Linked DNA regions of Homo sapiens: regions 1, 2, 3, 4, 6 and 7 are each linked to region 5. The links come from fine-mapping of genetic effects on plasma protein levels. A gene starts in region 5. Each other region holds a variant in brackets. All regions are shown on one strand. Distances are between the middles of the regions. Region 1 overlaps MFAP5 (microfibril associated protein 5). Region 2 has its middle 24 kb from the start of KLRB1. Region 3 has its middle 7.6 kb from the start of M6PR. Region 4 has its middle 19 kb from the start of KLRB1. Region 5 holds the start of MFAP5 (microfibril associated protein 5). Region 6 has its middle 4.1 kb from the start of KLRG1. Region 7 holds the start of CLEC2D (C-type lectin domain family 2 member D).

The links. PIP is the posterior inclusion probability: the model's chance that the variant is causal. Protein levels are from antibody-based Olink assays in UK Biobank. Linkage for the fine-mapping came from a reference panel and not from the study's own genotypes, which makes the PIPs less certain.
Region 1: its variant is fine-mapped to the plasma level of the MFAP5 protein (UK Biobank, PIP above 0.99).
Region 2: its variant is fine-mapped to the plasma level of the MFAP5 protein (UK Biobank, PIP above 0.99).
Region 3: its variant is fine-mapped to the plasma level of the MFAP5 protein (UK Biobank, PIP above 0.99).
Region 4: its variant is fine-mapped to the plasma level of the MFAP5 protein (UK Biobank, PIP above 0.99).
Region 6: its variant is fine-mapped to the plasma level of the MFAP5 protein (UK Biobank, PIP above 0.99).
Region 7: its variant is fine-mapped to the plasma level of the MFAP5 protein (UK Biobank, PIP above 0.99).

Annotation. Positions count from the first base shown.
Region 1 is chr12:8,644,287-8,648,286 of GRCh38, reverse strand. MFAP5 (microfibril associated protein 5) reads left to right here. Exons shown (of 10, transcript NM_003480.4): 10 at 84-2,344. The coding sequence ends at 196. Among named protein-coding and RNA genes, the nearest start is that of MFAP5, 17 kb to the left of the region's middle. RefSeq lists enhancers at 1-410, 3,345-3,404, 3,046-3,568. The variant T/C (reference allele first, on the strand shown) is at 317.
Region 2 is chr12:9,581,592-9,585,672 of GRCh38, reverse strand. No RefSeq gene overlaps it. Among named protein-coding and RNA genes, the nearest start is that of KLRB1, 24 kb to the left of the region's middle. The variant C/T (reference allele first, on the strand shown) is at 1,726.
Region 3 is chr12:8,955,249-8,959,329 of GRCh38, reverse strand. It overlaps a transcript of KLRG1 not described here. Among named protein-coding and RNA genes, the nearest start is that of M6PR, 7.6 kb to the right of the region's middle. RefSeq lists an enhancer at 2,302-3,501. The variant T/C (reference allele first, on the strand shown) is at 2,519.
Region 4 is chr12:9,625,182-9,629,262 of GRCh38, reverse strand. It overlaps the pseudogene LOC374443. Among named protein-coding and RNA genes, the nearest start is that of KLRB1, 19 kb to the right of the region's middle. The variant A/G (reference allele first, on the strand shown) is at 2,035.
Region 5 is chr12:8,660,416-8,664,496 of GRCh38, reverse strand. MFAP5 (microfibril associated protein 5) reads left to right here and starts at 1,671. Exons shown (of 10, transcript NM_003480.4): 1 at 1,671-1,870; 2 at 2,391-2,450; 3 at 3,599-3,634. The coding sequence starts at 2,393.
Region 6 is chr12:8,983,402-8,987,482 of GRCh38, reverse strand. It overlaps a transcript of KLRG1 not described here. Among named protein-coding and RNA genes, the nearest start is that of KLRG1, 4.1 kb to the left of the region's middle. The variant T/C (reference allele first, on the strand shown) is at 1,686.
Region 7 is chr12:9,668,289-9,672,366 of GRCh38, reverse strand. CLEC2D (C-type lectin domain family 2 member D) reads right to left here and starts at 2,654. Exons shown (of 5, transcript NM_013269.6): 1 at 2,572-2,654. The coding sequence starts at 2,632. The variant T/A (reference allele first, on the strand shown) is at 2,494.

The DNA of each region.
Region 1 (4,000 bases), 16 kb after region 5:
TGAAAAGTCTTCTCTATCCCTTAAAACAAGAGCCTTTGTTATCTTCTGCATTCTCTTCCCATGATGTTCTGCTTCTCTTCTAGATGAGCTTTGCCGTCAGATGGCTGGTCTGCCCCCTAGGAGACTCCGTCGCTCCAATTACTTCCGACTTCCTCCCTGTGAAAATGTGGATTTGCAGAGACCCAATGGTCTGTGATCATTGAAAAAGAGGAAAGAAGAAAAAATGTATGGGTGAGAGGAAGGAGGATCTCCTTCTTCTCCAACCATTGACAGCTAACCCTTAGACAGTATTTCTTAAACCAATCCTTTTGCAATG[T/C]CCAGCTTTTACCCCTACTCTCTACTTTTTCACCCAAACTGATAACATTTATCTCATTTTCTAGCACTTAAAATACAAAGTCTATATTATTGCATAATTTTGCTGCTTCTCAATATCATAGACACAGTGAATAGATGATGACTATATGGCTTATATACAAACATTCTATGTACAATTTCAAGGGAGACTAAACTTTAGGCTAATAATCTTTACTATTGAATCTGTCTGATATAGATCTTAGGGTTGAAGAAGCTATCTTTGTCTATTTGGGCTAACCATAGAATTTCATTTATTTTCCTCACAATATTTTCCTAGACCAACTCCCCATCATTCACGTGTTCCTCTTTACTCTTACTTTAACTATTTTGCTGGCTTGCCCGAAAATTTGCCTGGCAAGTCTTCCTTATAAGACACATCATGGTAAGTTTTGTAGTCCTGTAAGATTCTGCAACACAGTCAAGAATTATACAATCCTACTAGCAATATATAAGGACCCAAAATGTCTTCTGCTAAGCTCAGAGGCTGGGGCTAAAGCATGAGGACTATGCCAGCTATAGAACTTGGACTCATAATTCGCTATCCAATTTTTCATGCAGTTGTCTAGTCGGGAAGTAAGGTTGGAAACTAAGTCTCATTTACTGATTCGTTTATGGGTAGTACCGGGATGAACCCACCACCACAAAGCAAATTAGACAACTTAATGTGAAATCATACCATTGGTTGACGTTTCCTTGAGTTGCTACTTCGTTCATCTTCACAACTTAACAAGTGCACGGTCGAATTATTGTGCAAGTGGCTTTTGGATATCCTGATTGGGGCCTAAGAAGGGCATTCAGACTTGAATTTTAATAGGCAGACAGAAAGTTTGCCTAATAGTTAATACGAAAGAGTGAAAGAAACACAATATTCAGACAACCCACATTCTTATCCTGGCTCTAGCAGTAACCACGTAGCCTTGGATAAGCCATTTTCCTTCATTAGGTCCTGGTTTAATTTCCTCATCTTTAAAATGAGAAGGTTAAATTTATCTTAGTACTGCTGGGCGCAGTGGCTCATGCCTGTAATCTGAGCACTTTGGGAAGCTGAGGCGGGTGGATCACTTGAGGTCAGAAATTTGAGACGAGCCTGGCCAACATGGTGAAACCCCATCTCTACTAAAAATACAAAAATTAGCTGGGCGTGGTGGCACGTGCCTGTAATCCCAGCTACTCGGGAGGCTGAGGCAGGAGAATCAATTGAACCTGGGAGGCAGAGGTTGCAGTGAGCCGAGATGGCGCCATTGCACTCCAGCCTGGGTGACAAAAGCAAAAGTCCATCTTAAGAAATATATATATATATTATATATATTCTTAGTTCTAAGATTTCCTTTAATTCTATGATTCTCTGGATTTAAATGCATTATTCATATTTCTTGAAGCTTAGATACAGTCTAATTCATAGCAACCATATCTGCTTTATCCTAGGTGAGGGTAGCAGTCCACAATGGAATAGAAGAAAATCCCATTATAACAAATGACAAATTATATATCATGAATCCTTCTGTCTGACTAACTCAATAACTTTCTATAAAAGCCAATGGAATTCAAATAGGAGCTAGGAGACAACAAGTTATATATGACAGTGGAGGTTGTATTCCTTTTATATTGCTGAGAAAACTAGTTAAATGATCAGATTCTTGCTGTTAAGAAACAATTTCGTTTAATGGGATCTGTACAACTGATTTTAAAAAAATGCTACAAAAAGCCCCAAAGCATATAATCTCTACTCCTTACAGTCTCTAGAATTAAATGTACTCATTTAGACAACATATTAAATGCATATTTTAGCCACTTTAGAGAAACCTCATAGGCACAGAGTTTCCAAGATTAATTTTAAGAATATCTTCACGAACTTGACCCTCCTACTCCACATTGCAACATTTCCATCAGACAGCATTTCAATTCCAGTATTATGTATATTGCAAATTAAACATTTTAAAATATTTTTTTCCAATTTATTTCTCAAAATAAAATGTCTTTTGTTCTGGTTCTTTTTCTCTTCTATGTTTACGAAAAAGGCCTGAATTTATGAACTTTTATTCCACTTTAAAAAATGTGTATCAGCCGGGCGTGGTGGCTCACGCCTGTAATCCCAGCACTTTTGGAGGCTGAGGTGGGCGGATCACCTGAGGTCAGGAGTTTGAGACCAGCCTGGCCAACATGATAAAACCCTGTCTCTAAGAAAGATACAAAAAAATTACCCAGGCATGGTGGCGGGTGCCTGTAATCCCAGCTACTCGGGAGGCTGAGGCAAGAGAATCGCTTGAATCAGGGAGGTGGAGGTTGCAATGAGCCAAGATCATGCCACTGCACTCCAGCCTGGGCAACAACAGTGAAATTCCGTCTCAAAAAATAAAAGAAGATTCAGAAGAAAGTTTTTACTCATTAAGGTGTTAATATATTTTTTTTCCTGGTGAGCCCAAATGACAACCTTGCTAAGCAATGGCTTTCAATGAAAAGCCATTTTTTAAACCAAAATAATGGATCTTTAATGTTAGAATTAAAGAATTTGGTAAAAATATCAGTAGATATTGAATGCCCTCCTGGTATCCTGAATAGATAGCAGCCTCATCTACCTATTCATAAAGATTCACTTTTATTTTCCCTTCTCTAATTGAGTTGATTCTACTCTGAGGCTTTTTCCATATTCCATGCTTACGATTCAAGAAAATTCTACTTTCTCCTCAAATGAACACATTCTGGAAATTTGAGTGTGTCTTCTACTCACTAAATACAGTTCTATGCACACTCAGTATTGTTTTGACTCATGGCAGAGAGTGCAAACCGCAGCTGGTTTCCCAATTTCTGAGTCTTACTTTGATGACATATACAGCAGTATATGTTGCTAGACACAAGCTCCTCCCTTCTCTGCTTCAGGGTACTTGTGGCCAAAGTTAGATGTTTAACTAACCACTTTACACCTGGTGAGAAGGCACAAACAACCTCTAAGATCCCTCTTCCTTTTGTACTGAAGCAGCTGTAACACAATGAAGAAGGAAAACAATCCTAAAAGAAGTGGGAACAAAGATGGCACCAGACCAGGGGATAGCCAGATGAGAGAGTGACAACAGGCTGACACCAGGGTTGGGGAGCCAGGAAGCTAAAAGATGGAAACTGTCAAATTCCAAATTCAAAGGGAATTTGAGAAGTGGGGAAGGGGTCCTGGGGGATCTGGAAACTTAGGGTAAAACAGAAAGACATCAGGAGCACAGTGGAGGAGAGGCAGGACTGTCCTTGTAGCTTTGTCAGCTCAGGGAGGCCTTACTTAATAAAGCAATACTCTGATAAAAACGGAAGCCCTTGTATCTTTGAGCATTTTCACCAACCAAACATCAGGGAAAGTGACTTGTTAAGACTGCGGTAAGGAGAGGAACAGGTGGCCACAGTTTTGTTTTCTTTCTTTCTTTCTTTCTTTCTTTTTTTCTCTAAAAACCAGTCAAGCAGACCCAGAAGCAGCAGTCAGACGACAAATTCTGGGCAGAACCCAAGATGGAAAAAGCAAATGTTTATATAAATAGAGGTGCAGAGCCCACAGCTTCCTGTTGACAAATCGAACTTCACTTTACCTCAAACCCTCATTTTTTTTTAATAGCTGATAATGATTTGGTGTTATTTTTCAACTTGTCCAATCACTTAGAGTAAGGTT
Region 2 (4,081 bases), 920 kb before region 5:
TCCGTCTCAAAAAAAAAAAAAAAAAAAAAAAAAAGAATGCCACTAATTGACAAGAGTTTATAAATCTAGGCTCTAAAAAGCAAAATATTTTTGTAAACAATTATACCAGTCTATGCTTAAATATGAGTATGCATCTTTTAATTTGAAAAGTATACAATCATTGAAACACATTTACATTGTATCTTTCAACATTTGTAATCAACCTAAGAAGACAGCACTTTCTTCTAGATTAACCAGTTTTTAAATTTTGACTTATACTTGTTAAACAAAAGTATTCTCACAGTGGCTGTAAAATGATCAAATTTTGAATACAAACAAAGTAGATTATTTTTATTATTCTTTCCTCATTTCTTTGAATAAAACAAAGGAAAAAATATGTTACTTGGGGGCCTTTCCAAGAAACCTGAAAACTTGATTGTACATAAAAAGACTTCACAACCATTCTATTCTTTCTAATTTGGGGCCTAAATTTCAGAAAGGCAAAATTGAGTATGGTCAAAAGAAACAAGATATAAACACAATACTGTGTTTTATAGATATACCACCACAAAGGCAAAGATTATCAGGAACTTTTAACATTCCCAAAGACAAGTTGTTTGTTAAAATACATCAAGAGCAAAGTTATCAGAATAGATTGCTAGAAAAAAATGGGTATCTGTTATCTGAACACAGAAAATTTGCTCATTTTACAGAAAAAAAGGACAAATCTAATTTTACTAATGTGTACTATTTATGTGAACATTTACAGTAAAGAATTTAACATGTTTCTATGCATGCGTTTTCACATATAAAGATATATATATGCAAATAGATGATAAATTTAACTAAAGCCTTAAAAATATAATAATTAACTGATAAGTATGTTAAATAGAGCAATGTCTATATGATATTGAATTTGTCATCCTAGTAAAGTATTAAGATGTCCTTAAATAACAGATACTAATTAGTATCTTGTATACATATTCATGTTTCTCTGTAAATAATGAACCAAAACTGTTCAATCATTTATATTAATTCCCAGGTTCAACCATGCTGATAATTCTTTATATAAATTTTCCTGTTAGATTGCTGGTATGATTTCTGTCTTCTAAATGGATCCTGACCAATACGAACACCAAATTAGTTTCATTACTCATTGAGCATGCCTGCATTTGGCAGTGCCAATATATTTTCTCAGGATTTGAATGGAAAGAATACACTGTATTACCGAGTTTACTCAATATTCAAAAATAATCAAAACCTACAAACCCCAAGCTTGTTTGAACAACAAATTAAATATACATGTCTTCAGGCTAAATTTTTCACTCCCACTTCAAACCAAGTATAAACTGAATTTTAACACAATACATAAGCAGGACATCTTCAACACCGCTTTGTTTAATTCTCCAGGGATTATCTAGATAACTATTATCAAGCTCTACAAAATATAATAATACTTAACCTAACCCCCTACAAACAATCTCCTGAATAGAGTCTAAAAATTTACCTACATAGATATGGTTTCTTACCTTTAAATTCTTGATAACACAAGCAGCAGTTTTCCTGGTGGGCACTGATGTGGGCAGACCTGTAACATCACAAAATAAATAGCCCTCATTCTTGACTCTCTCAAGACAGAGCTGTGGCTGTGATATCTTGGAAGAATCAGAAATCACAGAATGCAAGGTTATTTTTACGTCCTTTCTCACATTAGTATTAAGTGATTTTGGCCAAACAGCAAGTTTT[C/T]GTGAACTGATTAGTCCATCTATTTATTATCATCATGTTAATACTAAATATTTACAATCGAGAAGGTGCATTTTGGTCACTCAGTGGGTTGCAAGGTATGACCACAGTTAGGTACAACAATACATAACATAGTTCTTGCCCACTTACAATCTGTAATCTATTTCAATACAAATAGCTTATGAGAAAAAAAAGTTTAAATTACAGTTTTCTTTTCATACCCCAAAGAACCACTTTCTACTTGCAACCTGAGTTCAACCATGGGCATAGACTATTTTTTTCCTTTGCTTTTTTTTTTTAACTTTAATTTTAGGTTCAGGGGTGCATGTGCAGGTTTGTTATATAAGTAAACTCATGTCACAGGGGTTTATTGTACAGATTATTTCATCATCCAGATCTTAAGCCTGGTACTCAATAGCTGTTTTTTCTGTTCTTCTTCCTCCTCCCACACTCTACCCTTAAAGAGGCTCCAGTGTCTGTTGTTCCCTTTGTGTCCATGAGTTCTTATCATTTAGCTCCCACTTACAGGTGAGAACATGCTGTATTTGGTTTTCCGTTCCTGCGTTAGTTTCCTAAGGATAATGGCCTCCTACAAAAGACATGATCATGTTCCTACAAAAGACATGATCTCATTCTTTCTTATGGCTGCATTGTATTCCATGGTGTATATGTACCACATTTTATTTATCCCATCTGTCGTTAATGGAAATTTAGGTTAATTTCATGTCTCTGCTATTGTAAATAGTGCTGCAATGAACATTCGTGTGCATGTGTCTTTATGGTAGAATGATTTATATTCCTCTGGGAATATACCCAGTAATGAAATTGCTGGGTCGAATGGTAGCTCTGTTTTTAGCTACGTCATACTGCTTTCCACAATGGTTGAACTAATTTACATTCCTGCCAACAGTGCATAAGTGTTCCCTTTTCTCTGCAACCTCACCAGCATCTGTTAGTTTTTGACTTTTTAATAATAGACTCTTATGTTCACTAAATTCTAAGAAGCCAGAACTGGTAATGAACTCAGAGACTAATTTAACTTTTGGCAACTAACTCAACTAAGGAAAACAGGCTTGAGAGGTAAAGTAATATATAGAATCACAGAGGCATTGAAAATTTCGGAATTAGAATACAAATATTTGAATATTAGGGCAAGCCACATTACATATACAACCTAAGAAACCAACATTCTTACTGGTTAAGAAGTACAGTCCCTGAAGCCAGCCTGATGAGTTCTCATCCGGAATCTGCCACTTATTAGCTACCTGACCTTGAACAACTTAACTAATCCCTCTATGCTTCAGTTTCCTCATTTGTAAAATGGGTACAATAGCAATCATAATTACCACTTAGGACTGATAGTGAGCTTCAACTGAGGTTCACATGTAAAGCACTTAGAAGTGTCTAGAACATGGTAAGTGTCACTTTAATTATTACAGAATTTTGTTTTAGGAAACATCTTGAAAGACATCTTTCCCAACCTTTTACCACAGTCAGTAATTTTTTTTTTATTATACTTTAAGTTTTAGGGTACATGTGCACATTGTGCAGGTTAGTTACATATGTATATATCTGCCATGCTGGTGCACTGCACCCACTAACTCGTCATCTAGCATTAGGTATATCTCCCAATGCTATCCCTCCCCCCTCCCCCCACCCCACAACAGTCCCCAGAGTGTGATATTCCCCTTCCTGTGTCCATGTGATCTCATTGTTCAATTCCCACCTATGAGTGAGAATATGCGGTGTTTGGTTTTTTGTTCTTGCGATAGTTTACTGAGAATGATGTTTTCCAATTTCATCCATGTCCCTACAAAGGACATGAACTCATCATTTTTTATGGCTGCATAGTATTCCATGGTGTATATGTGCCACATTTTCTTAATCCAGTCTATCATTGTTGGACATTTGGGTTGGTTCCAAGTCTTTGCTATTGTGAATAATGCCGCAATAAACATACGTGTGCATGTGTCTTTATAGCAGCATGATTTATAGTCCTTTGGGCATATACCCAGTAATGGGATGGCTGGGTCAAACGGTATTTCCAGTTCTAGATCCCTGAGGAATTGCCACACTGACTTCCACAATGGTTGAACTAGTTTACAGTCCCAACAACAGTGTAAAAGTGTTCCTATTTCTCCACATCCTCTCCAGCACCTGTTGTTTCCTGACTTTTTAATGATTACCATTCTAACTGGTGTGAGATGGTATCTCATTGTGGTTTTGATTTGCATTTCTCTGATGGCCAGTGATGATGAGCATTTTTTCATGTGTTTTTTGGCTGCATAAATGTCTTCTTTTGAGAAGTGTCTGTTCATGTCCTTCGCCCACTTTTTGATGGGGTTGTTTTTTTCTTGTA
Region 3 (4,081 bases), 290 kb before region 5:
AGACCAGTTCTTCAGGTTTTACAATAGTAATATTACCTACAGGAGAAGTTGGAGAAGCTCTAAATCTTGCGACCCCAGATACAAGACTCTGGGGCAGTAAGCAACTTATATAACAAAAACAAGCTAAGTAATGGCGGGTCATTGTTCAACTATGTCTATTCTTCAGCAAAGTTCAAGCCCCTACCATAATTTTAACTTTGTTTTATGAATGTGGTTTTAACTGTAAACTAAATTCCTCTTATAGTTATCTTGGCCCCCACATTAGAATGGACAAAAAAACAATTTAACTTGAGAGGTTGGAAGCAAGATGGAGTCAACCATATTAGACTTCTCTCATTACTTATAGTTCTGCAAAGGTGGTTTCATATTCATGAATTATAAGACTCAACATTAAGATGTCAATTTTCCCCAAATTTATCTACAGATTCATATCAACCCCAATTGTAACCCCAGCAGGATTTTTTTTTTTTTTTGATACAGGGTATCACTCTGTTGTCCAGGCTGGAGTGCAGTGGTGCAACCACGGCTCTCTGAAGCCTTGACCTCCTGGGCTCAAGCGATCCTCCCACTTTAGCCTCCCAAGTAGCTGGGACCATAGGCACAAGCCACCACGCTCAGCTAATTCTTAGGTTTTTTTGTAGAGACAGAGTCTCACCATGTTGCCCAAGCTGGTTTGAAATCCTGAGCCCAAGTGATCCTCCCATCTCAGCCTCCCAAAGTGCTGAGATTACACACGTGAGCCACTATGCCTTGCCCCAGCAGGATTTTTTAACAGAAATTGACAGGTTGCTTTTAAAGTGTATATGGAAATGCAAAGGACCTAGAATAGCCAAAACAATCTTGAAAAGAGAAGAAAGACTTATAATACCTTTCTTCAAGACTTAATATAAAACTAGAAGAATCAGGAGTGTGTTATTAGCTTAATAATAAAGATATCAACTAAACAGAATTAAGTCCAGAAACAGAACTACATTTATACAATCAACTGATTCTCAACAAAGCTCTGACGCAATTAAGAGAGGAAAAATAGTCAAACAATGTTATAGGAAGTCATTATATATCCATATGGGGAAAAAAAGGAACCTCAGTGCTACCTCAACTATACACAAAAATTAACTCAAAATAGATCACAGACCGGGCACACTGGTTCATGCTTGTAATCCCAACACTTTGGGAGGCCATGTTGGGAGAAGAGCTTGAGGCCAGGAGTTTGAGACCAGCCTGGGTACTATAGCAAGAGCCTGTCTCTAAAAAAATTTAAAAATAAATTACAGACATAAACATAAAACTATAAGGCTTCTTAGAAGAAAATACAGATAGAACCCAAACGCCCATCAAAAGGGAATGAATAAGATGAGAAATACGATAGTTCCCCACCCTTATCTGCAGGTGTGCTTTCTACAATTTCAGTTACCAGTAGTCAACCGAGGTCTGAAAATATCAGATGAAAAATTCCAGAAATAAACTACTCATAAGTTTTACATTGCATGCTGTTCTGAGTACTGTGATAAAATCTTGCACTGTCCTGCTCCATCCCACCTGGGACATAAATCACCCCTTCATCCAGTGGAAACACGCTGGGGACACTCCCTGCCCGTTAGTGTCCCTCTCAGTTATCAGATTGACTGCCACAGTACTGCAGTGCAAGTAACTCTTATTTTACTTAATAATGGCCACAAAGCGCAAGAGTAGTAATGCTGGCTATGCAGACATGCCAAAGAGAAGTGTAAAGTGCTTCCTTTAAATAAAAAGGTGAAGGTTCTTGACTTACTAAAAAAAAACAAAAAACAAAAAAACAAAACAAAACAAACAAACAAACAAAAAACAAAACAAGTATTCCGAGGTTGCTAACATCTATGGTAAGAATAAATCCTCTATCTGTTAAATTGTGAAGAAGGGAAAAGAATGTGTGCTAGTTTTGCTGTTGCAACTCAAACTGCAGAAGTTACTGCCATGGGCCACGGTAAGTGCTTCGTTAAGACAGAAAAGGCATTAAATTTGTGGGTGGAAGATATGAACAGAAACATATTCTCATTGAAGGCAACTGGGTTAGATGCTGTCTACAGCAGGGGCCTTGGAACATGTCCCCTGAGGAGAAGGGAGGGCTACTGTATTCATAAAATGTAATACTACCCCACCAAAACACAAAACAAAACCTACTACTGATACATACAAGTTCACAGATATTACAGTGAAAGAAATCAAACAAATGCAAAAGGAACATGCTATTGACACAGGATTTTTTGGTGGTGTTCCACAGCCAGAGACCTCCACGGCCGGGGGGGCCCTGCTCAAGATCAAGATTCACTCGTGACCACTGGGCTGGCTCCACCCACTGGGCTTGGCAGGCTGTGCTTGGCTCTTGGCTAGCGGTACTGGCCCAGATCTCACACCCACCAAGGGCAAGCCAGGTATGCTAGCTGCTACAGCAGGGCATCACCTCCAGGCACCAGCTTCATGTGAAGCTGTGGCTGGATCAGGTATACTGCAAGCAGCTTCTGCCTTGGGCACTGGCATA[T/C]GAACGAAGGGAACGCAGTGGCGTCCAAAAAACTCAAAAGACACCAGCAACTGCGGAACTTCAAAGGTCAGGTGCAGTGGCTCATGCCGGTAATCCCCACACTTTGGGAGCCTGAGGTGGGAGAATTACGTGAGGTCAGGAGTTCGAGACCAGCCGGGCCAACGTGGCGAAACCCCATCTCTACTAAAAATACAACAAATTAGCCGGAAGTCGTGGCAGGCACCTGTAATCTCAGTTACTCAGGAGGCTGAGGCAGGAGAATCACTTGAACCTGGGAGGCAGTAAGTTGCAGTGAGCCAAGATCACACCACTGCACTCCAGTCTGGGTGATAGAGTGAGACTCTGTCTCAAAAGAAAAAGAAAAAAAAATGCGGTGGGGGGTGTTACAGCATGTTACAGCTCTGGCTTGGGGAATCCCGAGGTCTGCACCCCGAAGAGTCTCAGCTCGTTTGTGTTACAGTTCATTCATTCCTGCTGTCCACAAGCTTTGCCGAACGGGGGCATGTCCCAACTTGTTCAGTCCCACCAGCCCACGGCTCCTGGGCTGGCCTGGCGCCACCACCACTTCCCATAACGTGGGGTGGCCGCCTGGTGCCAGGAGAGGGCAGGAGGGCTACAGCCTTTCACCTGCTGTTCTTTTGCACCCGCTGTTCGGCAGGTCCCGAGTTCTTGTCCTGCGTCCAAGAAGAATGAGGTTACACTGACAATTGCAGAGTAACCAAGGCAGAGAGGACGTTTATTCAGCAACAGAACAGCTCCCAGCAGAGAGGGGACCCAAAGGTGGTAGTCCCACTGTGTAGCTGAGTCCGGGAGTTTTTATGGGCTCAGAATGGGGGAGTGTGTGCTGATTGGTCCATAGGCAGCCTGGAAAAAGCACCATTTGATTGGCTAAAAGGCATTGCGGGAGTTCTCACTTGGGTCTTAGATTCTACCCAGAACTGGCAGGTGAGTTTTCAGGCTTCCGGCGGTCTTTGACTCGAAGGTTGGTTTTCACCAGGGACCCGCCCGTATCTACCTAGGAATTTGTCTGCTTCCCACCACTATCAGTATCTGTCCATTTATACTAAGTTCTAAAATAGGCAAAATTAATCTATAATTTAAAAAAAAGAAAAATTCAAAAGACCAGGCTTGATGGCTCATGCCTGTAATCTCAGCACTTCGGGAGGCTGAGGTGGAAAGATTACTCAAACCCAGGAATTCAAGACCAGCTCGGGGAAAATAAGGAAACCTCATCTCTACAAAAAATAAAAAAAAATTATCCTAGCATGGTAGCACACTCCTGTGGTCCCACCTACTCCACAGGCTAGCTGGGAGGATCATTTGAGCCTGGGAGGTCGAAGCTGCAGTGAGCCATGTTTGCACCATCGCACTCCAGCCTGAGTGATAGAGACTCTATCTCAAAAAAAAAAAAAAAAAAAAAAAAAAAAAAAAAAAAATCAGAGCAATAGTTGCCTCTAGGACTAGGAGAAGATGACTGGATAGGAGCATGAGGAAATTTTCTTGGATGATGAAAATCTTCTAAATTTTTTGATTACAGATAACAGTTATGATGCATTTGTCAAA
Region 4 (4,081 bases), 960 kb before region 5:
GAAATAAAGGGTATTCAATTAGGAAAAGAGGAAGTCAAATTGTACTGGTTTGCAGATAACATGATTGTATATTTAGAAAAGCCCATTGTCTCAGCCCAAAATCTCCTTAAGCTGATAAGCAACTTCAGCAAAGTCTCAGCATACAAAATCAATGTGCAAAAATCACAAGCATTCCTATACACCAATAACAGACAAACAGAGAGCCAAATCATGATTGAACTCCCATTCAAAATTGCTTCAAAGAGAATAAAATACCCAGGAATCCAACTTACAAGGAATGTGAAGGACCTCTTCAAGGAGAACTACAAACCACTGCTCGACGAAATAAAAGAGGACGCAAACAAATGGAAGAACATTCCATGCTCAGGGATAGGAAGAATCAATATTGTGAAAATGGCCATACTGCCCAAGGTAATTTATAGATTCAATGCCATCCCCATCAAGCTACCAATGACTTTCTTCACAGAATTGGAAAAAACTACTTTAAAGTCCATATGGAACAAAGAAAGAGCCTGCATTGCCAAGTCAATCCTAACCCAAAAGAACAAAGCTGGAGGCATCACACTACCTGACTTCAAACAATACTACAAGGCAACAGTAACCAAAACAGCATGGCACTGGTACCAAAACAGAGATATGGACCAATGGAACAGAACAGAGCCCTCAGAAATAATATCACACATCTACAACCATCTGATCTTTGACAAACCTGACAAAAACAAGAAATGGTTGCCTATTTAATAAATGGTGCTGGGAAAACTGGCTAGCCATATATAGAAAGCTGAAACTGGATCCCTTCCTTACACCTTATACAAAAATTAATTCAAGATGGATTAAAGACTTAAATGTTAGACCTAAAACCATAAAATCCCTAGAAGAAAACCTAGGCAATACCATTCAGGACATAGGCATGGGCAAGGACTTCATGACTAAAACACCAAAAGCAATGGCAACAAAAGCCAAAATTGACAAATGGGATCTAATTAAACTAAAGAGCTTCTGCACAGCAAAAGAAACTACCATCAGAGTGAACAGGCAACCTACAGAATGGGAGAAAAGTTTTATAATCTACCCATCTGACAAAGGGTTAATATCCAGAATCTACAAAGAACTTAAACAAATTTACAAGAAAAAATCAAACAACCCCATCAAAAAGTGGGCAAAGGATATGAACAGACAGTTCTCAAAGGAAGACATTTATGCAGCCAACAGACACATGAAAAAATGCTCATCATCACTAGCCATCAGAGAAATGCAAATCAAAACCACAATGAGGTACCATGTCACGCCAGTTAGAATGGCGATCATTAAAAAGTCAGGAAACAACAGGTGCTGGAGAGGATGTGGAGAAATAGGAACAACTTTTACACTGTTGGTGGGACTGTAAACTAGTTCAACCATTGTGGAAGACAGTGTGGCGATTCCTCAGGGATCTAGAACTAGAATGCCATCCCATTACTCAGCATATACCCAAAGGATTATAAATCGTGCTGCTATAAAGACACATGCACACGCATGTTTATTGCGGCACTATTCACAACAGCAAAGACTTGGAACCAACCCAAATGTCCATCAATGATAGACCGGATTAAGAAAATGTGGCACATATTCACCTTGGAATACTATGCAGCCATAAAAAAGGATGAGTTCATGTCCTTTGTAGGGACATGGATGAAGCTGGAAACCATCATTCTCAGCAAACTATTGCAAGGACAGAAAATCAAACATCGCATGTGCTCACTCATAGGTTGGAATTGAACAATGAGAACACTTGGACACAGGGTGGGGAACATCATACACCGGGGCCTGTTGTGGGGTGGGGGGAGTAGGGAGGGATAGCATTAGGAGATATACCTAATGTAAATGATGAGTAAACAGGTGCAGCACACCAACATGGCACATGTATACATATGTAACAAAACTGCATATTGTGCGCATGTACCCTAGAACTTAAAGTATAATAAATAAGTATATAAAATTAAAAAAAAAAAGAGCTTACGTGTCTCCAAGACTGACATTCTCCCATTACAGGTT[A/G]AAAAAACAGCAAAATCTGAGATTTCCTAAAAGTCACTTCCTATTATTGGAGCAGAATTATACCAGGTGCTCAAATTACTTGACAGTGGAAACAGTCTTCTGGCTTTGAACTCAGAAGACAGGAAGTGTTTATCCATCGAAGAACATTTTCATTATGTGTCTATCATGAGAGCACACACTTATTTCTTAAAGATCACCGATAATTATGAAGTGAGATGTAAGTGTGTGTGAGTTTCACAATCCACTCTTTAGTGATTCAGTGAAAATGTTCTTAACTATATGACTATTTGATAACTAACAGTCATTTTACTGGTACTAGGGTATTTGGTTCTGCCATACATCTTATCTAAATTTTTAGGATGCACAGAGTCTGCCACAATTATGGAAGTGTCTCCTGGGTCATTTGCATTGAACAATTCAATATATTTATAGCATTATTCTCAAGCTTTAGTATATAATGCTTTAGTGCATATAAAGATCTCAAACTATAGTATATATAAGAATAACTTGAAAACTTGTTAATAATGCAGATTCTTGCCACATAAACCCCTTTTTCTTCCCAAAGTACAGTTAGCTAGAATGGAGAATGTGCTAAAAATTATTTCAGGTGGTTCATGGACCACACTTAAAGAAACATTCATCAAGTAAATGAAAAGTGTTGGAATATCTTAGAAAGGTCAATAGAGTGACTAGAAGTCTGATGATGTAATTAGGGGATTAAAATTGTGGTTTAGTGCACTCAAGTATAACTTCAAGTTCTGAAGCATGACTGTGACTACTAGGAATCTACAATGGCCATACCAAAAACAACTGATTTGAGGTAAGCCATTCTCTTCAAACAGATGCTTGCAAAAGCCTATAAGGTGCAAAAGTATAAACTAGTTAGAAATATCAACCAAAGAAGAGGCTTCACTTGTCCATACATGGCATGAAACATATTGATTGATCATTTTGCTTGTTACAGAGTATGAAGAGCAACAACCAATCACCTGCGCAATTTTCTTCTATCACAACAGATTCTTGTTATACAATTTTTAATGTGTGTATATACTGTATATACATATGTAATATATAATATATTATTACAATGTGCCTATAAACATATATGTTCTATCTCTCTCTATATATATACACATACATAAAACCCTCATGAAAATTCAGACCTATAATTTTTTTCTATTTATGCTAGTGAATCCATTTGATGATCTAATTATGCAAATTACACTTTACAGCAAAGCATATCAGAATTTATGAATATCTTATCATGAGAAAATATAAATAGAGAGAGAATTGTCAAAACACCCACACACATACACACACAATATAATATGAAAGCTAAAAAATTCAAAGAATTAATGAGTATATGTGATCCTAAGATTTATAATGTAGTAATAGTAGAGGTAATAATTGAGCAGCTCGAGGAACAATAAAGACAAGTTTTTGACTAGATTACCTATTTTTGACATTGAACTTTGCCAGGTCAGCAGTGGGCACTGGGGTGGGTGGACAGGAAAATACAGTAAAATAAAAACAATGTAACTGTTGAAAATGAAGAGCCACAATAGAGCCCAGAAGGTGGCCACAAAAAGAAGTGATTAAGAGGATAATTTTGTGCAAGAAGGTAAAGATACAAAAGTCAGCAAGTGTTAATCATGAGCTAAGAGAATCTACTTTAGGCTTAAAAATGAAAAAAGGAAGGGATGACATTAGCAAGAGAGCAGAATAGGAAATTATGGGACTCTCTTCCCCACAGGCCCATTGCTGTGGCAACTTTAGAGACTACTGGAGAAGCTGAAGCACCAGCCCATTATAAAACCAAGAAAGGATTCCCCCCCAGAAAAAGGATAGAAAAAATTTGTGACATTCGACACGCCCATTCATGTCCCTCCTTTATGCAATATACTGTGAAGCAACTGGGAGGAACCACCCCATACAGCGGATTCTCTCTCCTGATGAAAACAAAAAAGTGGACCATGCATCTAATGCTCTGGCTTGTCTGAGGGCTGCCTGAGGAACTGGTTTCTGTCTTCCCTGACTCACAGTGCTG
Region 5 (4,081 bases):
GAGCAGATGGAAGAAGAGCAAGTTCTGGGGCAGGAAGATCAGGAAGAGCTGGGCGTAGCACTCAGCTTGTTCTGCGGACTGACCAGATTCCATGTATCTTAGAGATGTAGCACTTACAGCTCCCTCGGAGGTCCCAGAGGTGCTTACAAAGTGCGATTTGCTTATTTCTGTGTCCACTGCTCTTTTTTCCTCTCAACTAGACTCCTTCCTTCCTTCTTTCCTTCTTTCCTTCCTTCCATCATACCCCCTTTTATTTTCTTCTAGTATGTAATTTATTAATACTATCTGCTCTCTGTCTACCTGTACTCTTCTCTAATTTATTTCATCAGGGAGATATATAATGTAGACTAAAGGGGAGCCAACAGGAAACCTGAAACTTACATATTTCTATGGCATACAAGGTCCACCATTCCTCAGACTTGAGTTTCTGTAATTCAAGTTTGCTCTTGAATCCAAAGCGGGAATGTTTTAGTGGTTGAACCACTAGAGTCTCTGTGAATAAGAAGAAATACAAAGCCTTTAAAATTCCTGAATCAAGGCTGAGCAACATAGCAAAATCCTGTCTCTACAAAAAAATACATCTAAATTCGCCTGGCATAGTGGCATGCACCTGTAGTCCCAGCGACTTAGGAGGCTGAGGCAGGAGGATCACTTGAGCCCAGGTCAAGCCTGCAGTGAACTGTGATCATGCCACTGTACTCCAGCCTGGGTGACAGAGCAAGACCCTATCTTAAAAAAAAGAAAAAATCCTGGATCAGAGAAAGTGTTATCTACACATTATATGATCTAAGGAAAAATATTGGTAGAAAATGAGGCAAGCATAATAACCTTGCCTTTCAATTTTCTTTGGGCATCTGATTGCATTTTATCCTTAAGAGCCCAGAAACCCAGATTCTTAGTTAAGCTCAAACAAAGCCAAAAGACAAAGTAAGGCTGGCACCCCTTTCACAGAGCTTCTCTACATTTGAAAATGATTTGGAGAGTTCTGAAAAGTTCCTCAACTTTTTATAACCCTAAGGTAGCCAGCCTTCCTCTTGGACAAAACTCATAAGGTATCTGTGTTCGCTTGGTTGTGAGAATACATAGGATATTCCAAGGGGAAAAAAAACAAGAAGAGTCTAAATGTGTAGGTCAAGAAAGAGGCAGAGATGAAAAAGAAATACAGGAATAAAAAGAAATTTGTTAGTGCTGAAGAGACGAATATTGAAAAAGAAAGTGAGAAAGAAGGATGAAGGAATGATTCAAATATGGAATATAAGGAGGCTGAGGCAGGATAATTGCTTGAACTCAGGAGGCGGAGGTTGCAGTGAGCCAAGATCACATCATTGCACTCCAGCCTGGGTGACAGGAGCAAAACTCTGTCTTAAAAAAAAAAAACAAAAAACAAAGAAGAAGAAGATAGCCAGAGAGAGAGAAACAGCATCTATAATGTGCATTAAAACACACCAAGGAGGAGACGGAACTTTTCGGTAAGAAAGAACCCAAGGAACAAAGGGGAGCTGGGACCAGATCGTGAGAGGAGGGAAAATAGGCTAATGGAAGAAAGGCAATACATGAGCTGGGGCCAACACTTCCAGGGAGCAGCAAGAGCTCTCACCAGTGTAGTCATAACATTTGGAATGAGGGTGTGAGCAACTGCAAATTCCCATCTCCCTTCTCATTCCAGCCTCATTGTAACACACATTCTACGCCTAGCCTGGCTTTCTTGCTCTCCCTCATCTCATTGTTTCAGCGGAGGCCAAATCTGAAGTCCTTTCCAGGGAGTGGCTCTGTTCATCTTATTCGCCAGCCAAAGTAGGAACAGCGTAAGAGGAGAGAGACACATTCAGCAGCCAAAGGACTCGGTGGAAAGAGCAGAACACCATAGACAGTGAGTTATTTGATTACCTGAAACCCTAAAGAGACAGAGGGAATGTGTGTATGTCTGTGTGTGTGTGAAAGGGCTGGAGGGGGCAATGGGGAATGTCACTGAACTTAGTCTTGAGCAGACCTCCCAAATAACCGTGGAATTCTGATGAAGGAGACGCCAAGATGAGCAGATGATATGAAAAAGTCACGCATATGAGAAAGGAAGATTCCACATCAGGGGTGAAAGAGGCCAAAGGGTAGGGCCAAGTACGGACCATGTAGAATGTAAAATTTCCTCTGACTTGGTAGCAGAGAATAATAAAAGCAAGAATAATGGTAAGTGACCAAGGAATAGATTTGAGGGAGAAATGAATGTTGGGTGAAAGGTAAGAAAAGAGAGAAAGGGTTTGAGTCATAAGGGAAAATGAAGAAAGTTCTGGGAAGACAAAGAGACAGGGACCTCAGAGGCATCTTTCCCTGGCACTGAAATGCTGATGTGCCTCTGAGCATCACATTCTCTGCTATGCCCACCACCCCTATAGATATGTCGCTCTTGGGACCCAAGGTGCTGCTGTTTCTTGCTGCATTCATCATCACCTCTGGTGAGTCCTTTATTCTTTGCTCCCTAAACCCTCAGCTCCTCAGCTATACACGTGTGTGGCAGGAGATGGGATGGAATGAGGTCGAAGAGGAATAGCAGTAGAGATGCTTGGTATTGAGCTCTGGAATTCCTATTAGAAGAACAGATTTTGTGTTAAGAAAAAAAGTTCAGGAATGTGACTAGACTTCAGACTAGGGGAAAGGCCTCCCAAGAATTATGAAACTAAGGTGCAACTAAGATACACACAAATGCATATTAACCACCCAAAGAGGGTCACATATGAGTAAACAAATTGCAAAGCAAAAAAGAAGCTGATATACAAATGCATACACAAACATAGAGGAGGGACTACCTAGAAAGAAACTGGACCTGGGCTGGGCATGGTGGGCTCACACCTATACTCCTAGCACTTTGGGAGACTGAGTGGAGAGGATCACTGAGACCAACCTGGGCAACATAGTGAGATGAGTTAACCTCATCTCCATTAAAAAAAAAAAGGAAAAAAGAAAAAAAGAAACTGGACCAAATGTAAATCTTGAAGAAGAACAGTGGGAATACATACACTATTACCATCATGCATGCAGGTATACTCACATGCATGCAAAAAATATATGCCATACTGACACACAAGAGAAAAGTGATCTTCACAGATTTCCCAGAATCTGGCTAGAAGACTGGCCACAGAAAGTGAACTTTAGGCTGTAAAGATGTCCTACTCTATTTTTTTCCCTCCTTCTTCCGATACAGATTGAGAAAAATAATTCTTCTGTCTTGTTCACTAGCATAGCTAGCGGGGAAGCCGTGGGGCTAGAAGGGCTGCCAGGCCTCTCAGTGGAGCTGGACTTCATTCCTGGCCAGGAATGAGGGTAAGAGGGCAGCAGGGCTTTGTTCTCAGGAACTTGTCTTTTTTTTCTTTTTACCAAACAAATGCACAGCAGTGAAGGAACTTGTCTTTCTGAAGTCTTTCTATTCCTATTGGTTTTGTTCATAGCACTAATGGTCTCAGTAATTTTATATTGAGCTATATAGGAATAAGTCACAAAGATAAAGTATAACCATTTCTCCATGATTTTCTGATTTGTCTCATAAAAGGGTTACGAGGTATAGAGCTGCAGTCACTCACATCTCTTTTCTCTTCCTTTGCTATAGACTGGATACCCCTGGGGGTCAATAGTCAACGAGGAGGTAGGTGAACCCTTGGATAGCGGCTCTGTTGGGGTTCTTATCAGGAAAATTTAGATGAACAGAGTTAAAAAATCCTTCCTGCTTATCTATCGCTGCCAAAAAAAAAAAAAAAAGAATATTTCCTACAACAAAGAGATGCATTGCCAAAGTGTGAGAAATAGGATCAACTTCACCAGTTTCCACAATCCTATTATCCCATTCATAAAAGCTTCTTGTGTGTGTGTTTTTAAACTACTGAAACACCTTCCCAAGACATCCTCTATGACCATTTCTGTTTTCATTTTTCTTTACACATCTCCTATCTTACTCAGAAAATGCTTACTAGTCCTTACAAAAAGCGTTCCTTAATTCATGTAACAGTGGAAAAATGAAAGACAGGATAAGAAGTCATCTTATACCCATAATCCCAGCACTTTGGGAGGCTGAGGCAGGAGGATCGCTTGAGCC
Region 6 (4,081 bases), 320 kb before region 5:
GACTGAAAGTCTAAGATCAAGATGCCAGCAGAGTTGGTGTTTGGAGAGTGCTTCCCCTGTGGGTTGCAGACTTCTCACTATATCCTCAAGTGGCTTTTCCTCAGTGTGTGCACAAGGGAAGAAAGAGAGAGGGCTCTGGTCTCTCTTCTTACAAGAACATTAATCCTATCAGATCAGGGCCCCACCCTTGTAACCTGATTTAACCTTAATTACTTCCTTAAACACTCCATCTCCAAATACAGTCACACTGAGGATTAGGGCTTCAATATGTGAATCTGGGGGAGACAAACATTCAGTCCATAATAATACTTAACACTACTGAATTGTATGCTTTAAAATAATTAAGATCATTTTTTAAAAAAAGGAAGGTGTATTAGTCCATTCTTGCACTGCTATAAAGAAATACCTGAGGCCAAATAATTGATAAAGAAAAGAGGTTTAATTGGCTCACAGTTCTGCAAGATGTACAGGAAGCATAGTGGCATCTGCTTCTGGGCAGGCCTCAGGAAACTTAGTCATGGTGGAAGGCAAAGGGAAATGTCTTACATGGCCAGAGCAGGAGCAAGAGAGACGCGGGGAGGTGTTACACACTTTTAAACAACCAGGTCTTGTGAGGAACTCTATCAGGAGAACAGCTCTAGGGGTATGGTACTAAACCATTCATGAAAAACCATCCGCGTGATCCAATCACCTCCCACCAGGCCCCATCTCCAACACTGGAGATTACAATTCAACGTCAGATTTGGGTGGGGATGCAGATCCAAACCACATCAGAAGGCAACATAGGAATCAGGGGCTCTTTGAAGAAATGGCTAATTCTAGGGCCAGGACAGGGAAAGTACAAAATAAGCTTGGAGGATCTTCCAGTCTTTTAATGTTAAAAAATAAGCAAGTTAAAAAAAAAAAGATGGGAGCATATCAGGACACAGAAACCAACCTGGAAAAGCTCCCAATGGAACAATATGAACAACAAAATAAATGACAGTGTTGAATTATAACACAAGGGGAAAAACTATATAAATCCATACTGATTTAAATAAATAAATAGGTGAGAAGTGACAAATCTTGCTTACAGAAAATACCAAATAATATATGTAGATACTCCCCATTCAGGATGTGGAATTTAACTCTCCTCCCTTTGAGGGTAGTCAGGGATAAGAGACTCACTTCCAAAGAGTACACTATGGATAAAAGGAAATAGTAACTATTCATTAAAGAATCTTGGCAAATACCACCTCAACCACATGAACAGGGTTCACTGCGTGAACCACCAGTGATGAGTCTTGTTGATATCATGTACCCCCTAATATGATGCAATGATAAAAGCACCTAACCAGTAAGGTTTGTTCCCCAAAATCCATAACCCCAGGGTGGTATTATACATATGTATATATTGGTTTTCATCCACAGTTTCTGGCTCCTAACTCCTATGGTCCCTGTTACAGTCCTTTCTTATAATGTTGAGTGTGTCAGGCCCCAAGGGGAAGGCCTCTGGCCTTCTTCTGCCCTCCTTTCATCTGCCTCAAGGCAGGACTCTAATTTTCCCCTGCCTTTCTGATTGTGGGTCTTAAAACCTTCCCCAGAGAGGGTCCTGCCCTTTACTGGGGTGACAAGGGGAGGGGGTCAGCAGCAAGAATGCTGATGTCCTGAAGCTTCCATAAAAACCCAAGAGAACTGTGTCAGAA[T/C]GCTTCCAGATGACTGAACCTGTGGAGATTCCTGGAGAGCAGCCTTCCCAGAGAGGGCATGGAAGCTCCACACCCCTTTCCCCATACCCTGCCCTACAGTTCTCTTCATCTGTATCTTTTGTAATATACTTTATAATAAACTGATAAACATAAGGGTTTCCCTGAGTTCTGTGAGCTGCTCCAGCAAATTAACTGAACTCAAAGGGGAAGTTGTGGAAATCCCAACTTGAAGCTTATTGGTCAGATGTTCCAGAGGCCCAGACTTGTGACTGGTGTCTGTGGGTGTAGGGGGTGATCTTGCATATTGAATCCCTGAAATGTAAGATCTAACACTATCTCCAGGTAGATAATGTCGGAATTGAATTAGAGGATACCCAGTTGGTGTCTGCTAATTGGTATGTGGGGAACACCCCTACCACATTTGGTCACACAAGTCTTCTTCTGTGTTGATAATTGTGGTAGTGCTGGTGTGAAAGCAGAAGAAAAACACAGCTGAAGAAAGTTTTCCCCTACACATCCAATGTAAACATGCAAAAAAAAAATCAGATAATTCTAAATTGAGTGGTACTCTACTAAATATCTGACCAATACTCTTAAAATATATCAAGTTCACGAAAAAAAAAAAACACTGAGAAACTGTCATAGACCAGAGGAAAACAATAAATATAACAACTAGATGTAATGTGGTATCCTGGATTGGATCTTGGAACAGCAAAAAGAGCATTAGTGGAAAACTGGTAAAATTCAAACAATGTAGCAATATTCATTTCTTACATTTGAGAAATGTGCCATGATTTTTTAAGATGCTAACATTAGGGGAAATGGGGTGAAAGGTATAAAGAAATGTTCTGTGCTATCTTAAAAACATTTCTGTAAATCTGAAATTATTCCCCAATAAAACTTTTCTTCAAAAAAGAGGATACATAACACAGATTAGCCATAATGCATCACATTTAATATCTAGCATACAATAAAATATTATTAGAATCCAAAGAAATAAGAATATATGGGCCATGGATCAAAGAAAAGTCAGTAAGTAGAAAAGAAACTTATGTAACATAGATGCTGGAACTAGCAAACAAGGACTTTAATATCTGCATAAATACGTTCAAAGACTTAGAAGAAAATATAGTCATAATGAATAAAAATTTGAAGAATCTCAGAGAAGTAGAAACTACCAAAAAGAATCAAGTGACTATTCCAGAACAGAACAGCATTCATAATTTTTAAAAATAACTGAATGAGGGCCAGGCACGGTGGCTCACAGCTGTAATCCAGCATTTTGGGAGGCGGGGGCAGGTGGATAATTTGAGGTCAGGAGTTCAAGACCAGCCTGGCCAACATGGTGAAACCCTGTCTCTACTAAAAACATAAAATATTAGCCTGGCCAACATGGTGAAACCCTGTCTCTACTAAAAATATAAAACATTAGCCTGGCCTGGCGGCACATGCCTATAGTCCCAGCTGCTCAGGAGGCTGAGGCAGGAGAATCACTTGAACCCAGGAGGCAGAGGTTGCAGTGAACTGAGATTGCACTACGGCACTCCAGCCTAGGTGACAGAGCGAGACTCCATCTCAATAATAATAATAATAATAGCTGAATGAGATTAATAGCAAATAGAAGAGGGCAGATAAAAAGGTCAGTAAACATGAAGACAGATTGCTAAAAATAATCCAATATGAAGAATAGAGGGAAAAAATGGGAGAAAAAAATGAACAGAACCTCAGTGACCTATGAACAATGCCAAATAGTATAACAAAAGTGAAACTGTAGTCCCCCAAAATAAAGGGGACATATAATGAAATCGGAAAGGAATTTGAAAAAGTAATGATCAAATATTCCCCAAATTTGGGATACAACCTACAGGTATAAGAAACTCACTGAATCCGCATCAAGATAAACAGAAGGAAAATCACTCCTAAGAACATAATCTAAAACTAATAAAAACCAAAGATAAAAAGAAAATACTGAAAACAGCCAGAGGAAAATAAATAACACATTAATAATGGGAAACAACACATGAATGATAGCTAAATTCTCAACAGAAACAAAAAAGGAGAAAAGCAATGAGATGTCATCTTTAAAATGGTAAAATGGGCCAGGCACGGCGGTTCACGGCTGTAATCCCACCACTTTAGGAGACCAAGGCACATGGATCACCTGAGCTCACCAGTTCGAGACCAGCCTGGCCAACATGGTGAAACCCCGTCTCTACTAAAAATACAAAAATTAGCTAGGTGTGGTGGCAGGCGCCTGTAATCTCAGGTACTCTGGAGGCTGAAGCAGGAGAATCGCTTGAACCCAGGAGGCCGAGGTTGCAGTGAGCTGAGATTGCACCATTACACTCCAGCCTGGGCAACAAGAGCGAAACTCTGTCTCAAAAAAAAAAAAAAAA
Region 7 (4,078 bases), 1.0 Mb before region 5:
GAGACTGCTATGGTTTGAATGTGTCTCCAAAGTTCATGTGTTAGATACTTAATCCCCAATGCAATAGTGTTGAGAGGCAGGTCCTTTAAGAGGTAATCAGGTCATAATGTCCTTATAATGGGAGTGGGTTTACTATCACGAAAGTGGATTTGTTATAAAAGCAAGTTTGGTGCCTCTTGCTCTCTCTCTTTCTTATGCATGTGCTCTCTTGCCCTTCCAAATTTTGCCATGGGATGATGGAGCAAGATGTGTTTCTCAGTCTTGAACTTTCCAGCCTCCAGAACTATGAGCCAATAGATTTTGTTCATTATAAATTACCCAGTCTTGGGTATTCTGTAATAGCAGCACAAAACAGACTAAGACAGAGTCTATATATGTGTGGCAACAAGGAGAAAATGAAAAAAAAAACTACCTTTCTCACAATTTTGCTGTGATCCCAAAATGGCTCTAAAAATATGGTCTTTAAACAAAACAAAAAAGAGCAAAAGGAAAAAGGATATACTAGCAGCAGATCTTACAAGAATATCCAAATTTAAAGAGCCATCAAACCAGTGGTGAATTTAAATTTCCCTCCTCTAGTATCACTGCCCCGAACTTAATACAGCCAGAAACATGGAATTGAGCCTCTGTCAGCATAAAGAGAGGGCTCCAGGAGAAGCACTAGAGGTATGGTCTGAGGAACAGAAAAGCAAACTCCTATCTCAAATAGAGTGTGAAAATACCACGTTTATTTTTTCTCCCCCTCTTGTCTACATTCTCATGTGCCTCAAACCTCAGGCAATCTGATGATGGTAGGGGAAACTACAGCAACATGCAATAGCCAAAACCTTGAGAAAGGTTAATCCTCGGCCGGGCGCGGTGGCTCACGCCTGTAATCCCAGCAGTTTGGGAGGCCGAGGCGGGCGGATCACAAAGTCAGGAGATCGAGACCATCCTGGCTAACACGGTGAAACCCCGTCTCTACTAAAAATACAAAAAAGTAGCCGGGCGTGGTGGCGGGCGCCTGTAGTCCCAGCTACTCAGGAGGCTGAGGCAGAATGGCGTGAACCCAGGAGGCGGGGCTTGCAGTGAGCCGAGATCGCGCCACTGCACTCCAGCCTGGGGGACAGAGTGAGACTCCACCTCAAAAAAAGAAAAGAAATCTAAAGTCAATCCTTTCCATTCAGTTGAGCTGTAGCTCCATGAGAGTGGGGCCAAACCTCTTGCTTTTTTTTTCTTCTTTCTCACTGTCCGTCTGCCACATGAGCTTAAAGATGCAGCTATAATTGCAGAAGTATATGGTTCATCAGAATAAAAGGAGGCCCGCATTTCTAGCTGGAGGATGGAAAGGAGAAGCCCCTGGGAACCTGAAAGTACGGGTCAGATGGTGAAGAGGAAGAAACTTTAGAAAGAGACCCATGAACATTATTCATAAACTCCTGGATTCACCTGCCCCTCAACTTATGCATGCCTAGATATGGTTCTAATTGGCACACTAAAGATGCTAAGACCTGAACTAATGAGTAGAGCATTGCACAGTTCCCAATTTCACCCCTGGTTGATGCACATGTCTGAATAGCACTACAAAGGCTTTCAGAATGGAACTGACATTGGAACCAGATCCCACAGATTGTCTTCATCTCACCAGGGTGATTGCTTGCTAAAACAATAGTATCAATATACTCCAAAATTTAAATAAGATCCAGTCTAACTAAATATTTGTTCAAAATGTTCAAATTACAATCCAAAATTACACAGTATATGAAGAACCACGAAAATGTCAACTTCCATGGGGAAAGAAAACACAAGCCAAGGAGGACATGACAGAGATGTTGGAACTATCCGACAAACAGTTTAAAGCATTTGGTATAAAATGCTCAAAATACCCAATGAATGAAGAAATAAATGAAGTCATTTAACAACATTTAGAGTTCATCTTTTTCTGCCTCTGAATTACCTTTTCTCCAAATTGATTACCTTTTAAGTTGGGAGGAGAAAACTCCAAACTTTTAAGTCCTAAGTTATAAAACCTTGATATTCCCTAACTGTGGCAAAAGTCATTTTTTTCACTTACTAAAGCATCATATAAAGCTATATATATATATATTTCCAGTGCATCCAATGTAACATAATTCCATTAGAATGCCCTACTAAGTTTCTACTCAACCTTTGTTACTTTTTTGATTTGTAAATGTCCTTTACATACTATTTTCTACCTTTTCTCTCTTAAGAGCTTCCATGATAGGTTTTCTACCTATGTAATAATGATGGTATCTTGTATCTGAGTAACACTTTAGAGTTTGTATAGATTTTTTTTTAGTGAAATTAACTGTTATTTTCAATCCTAAACTTAACCTTATCTCATTGTCTTACATCTTTCTCTCATTGTTCCCTCTCCTTAGTTGTTAGAACTGGGAATATAAATATATGCATGTTTTACACAAATTATAAGCCAATTTATGGACTCCCACATTCCATCTCTTATCCTTGAAAACTTTTTACTAGATCAGCACC[T/A]TTCCTGTGTGAGCCCATCACTACCACTACCTTCCCATTCCAGTCCTCACACTTACTCTGTAGAGCCCAGCTTCTTACCTGGGTTTGCAGGCAATTCAGATGGTGTAATGTCTTTCTCCACATTGTTACTGTCATGCATTTTGCCTCCAGTTTCTATGAGTGATCTAAACCACAGTCTCTACGTTTTCAACCCCAAGAATGATTCAAAACAAAACAAAAAAAAAGCCCAACGACTAAAACGTGTAAGTGTGTAACCGCCCCAGTAACTCAAAATGTCAAGCCTTTAAGTTAAATATAGCTAGAGGAACAAATGAAGCATAAATTGTTTCAAAAATCAGCTCATCACAACAGAATAAACTGGTGTTTGTAAGAATTTTAAAAAGTTGAAGCTACTTCTCTAACAGTATTTTGGTTACGAAAGAAACTAATGTTTGATAACTTAAAATTTCTTTGACTATTAAAAATTATAATTGTATTTTGTGCGGTACAAAGCAATATTATGATAGAAAATAAGAATTTATTGAAAGGAAGGAGTTGGCTCTCAGAGGAAATGAATGTTAGGTAAGTAAAGACAACAGCAATTTTAATCTCAAATTAAAATTCATTCCCAAGAGTTTACGCTCATTCAAAAAATATCTTGTTTTCAATTTCTTCAAGATATTTTGGGAATTTGCTGCTATGGCTGCTACAACAACTTTTCAAAAATGGGCTTGAACGGTGTGCAGCTTCTGTGCTCCCTCTGGCATGATCCAGGAGCACAGAGGCTCTTTAGCAGCAAGAGCTTCTTGTCAGATGTGTTGATTTCTTGTATATAAATGCCAGTAAGGGCACCTTTTACTAAAATATAATTTATAGTAATGTGCACAAATCATAAGCATACAACTAAACACATTCATTAAAAATATAACATGTAACAAGTGCCTAGATGAAGTATATCTTAAAACCACGTAAAACAATACCAACACGCTATGTGCCCTACTCATGTCCTGCAACGCTCATTACCCCAAATACAATCTCTATCTTAACTCTGACAACATATTTTCCCTGCTTTTGAATTCTATACAGTAGCCCCCCTTACCTGTAAGAAATAAGTTCCAGATTGGACAGCTATTGCCTTTATCAAATAGAAATGAAGTTGCATTAGGACTGAGTTCCAGTTTCTGTAAGATTTTATATATCTTTTTCTTTACTATTTCATCATTTCTAGTTTGTCCTAGGACCTATGATAAAGCCTTCTAGTAATTCCATCTGAGAACCTGCTTTTTATCAAAGCTGCTTCTCTTTCTTGGAAGTTGAATTTGGTTTTGTCTCCTGAACAACATGTGATTGCCAAAAGTTCAAGTCTGTTTTTCACATAGTTCTTCCTAACCTCCTTTCCTGTGAAATTTAATAATTTGAAAATTGCTTGAGAGAAAAATTTTTCTCATTTCTTTGGCCCTCTCTCCTCTCTGGGGGTTTTGGTCCTTCAAGTGCTTTAGGAAGAGATTTTTCTCTCCCCCAAAAAAATGCCTGGTATCCACAGCCCTCTCCCCAGAATCTCAGCATCTGACCCACTGCCAAGATGCCCCTAAGAGAAGGGTGGCTC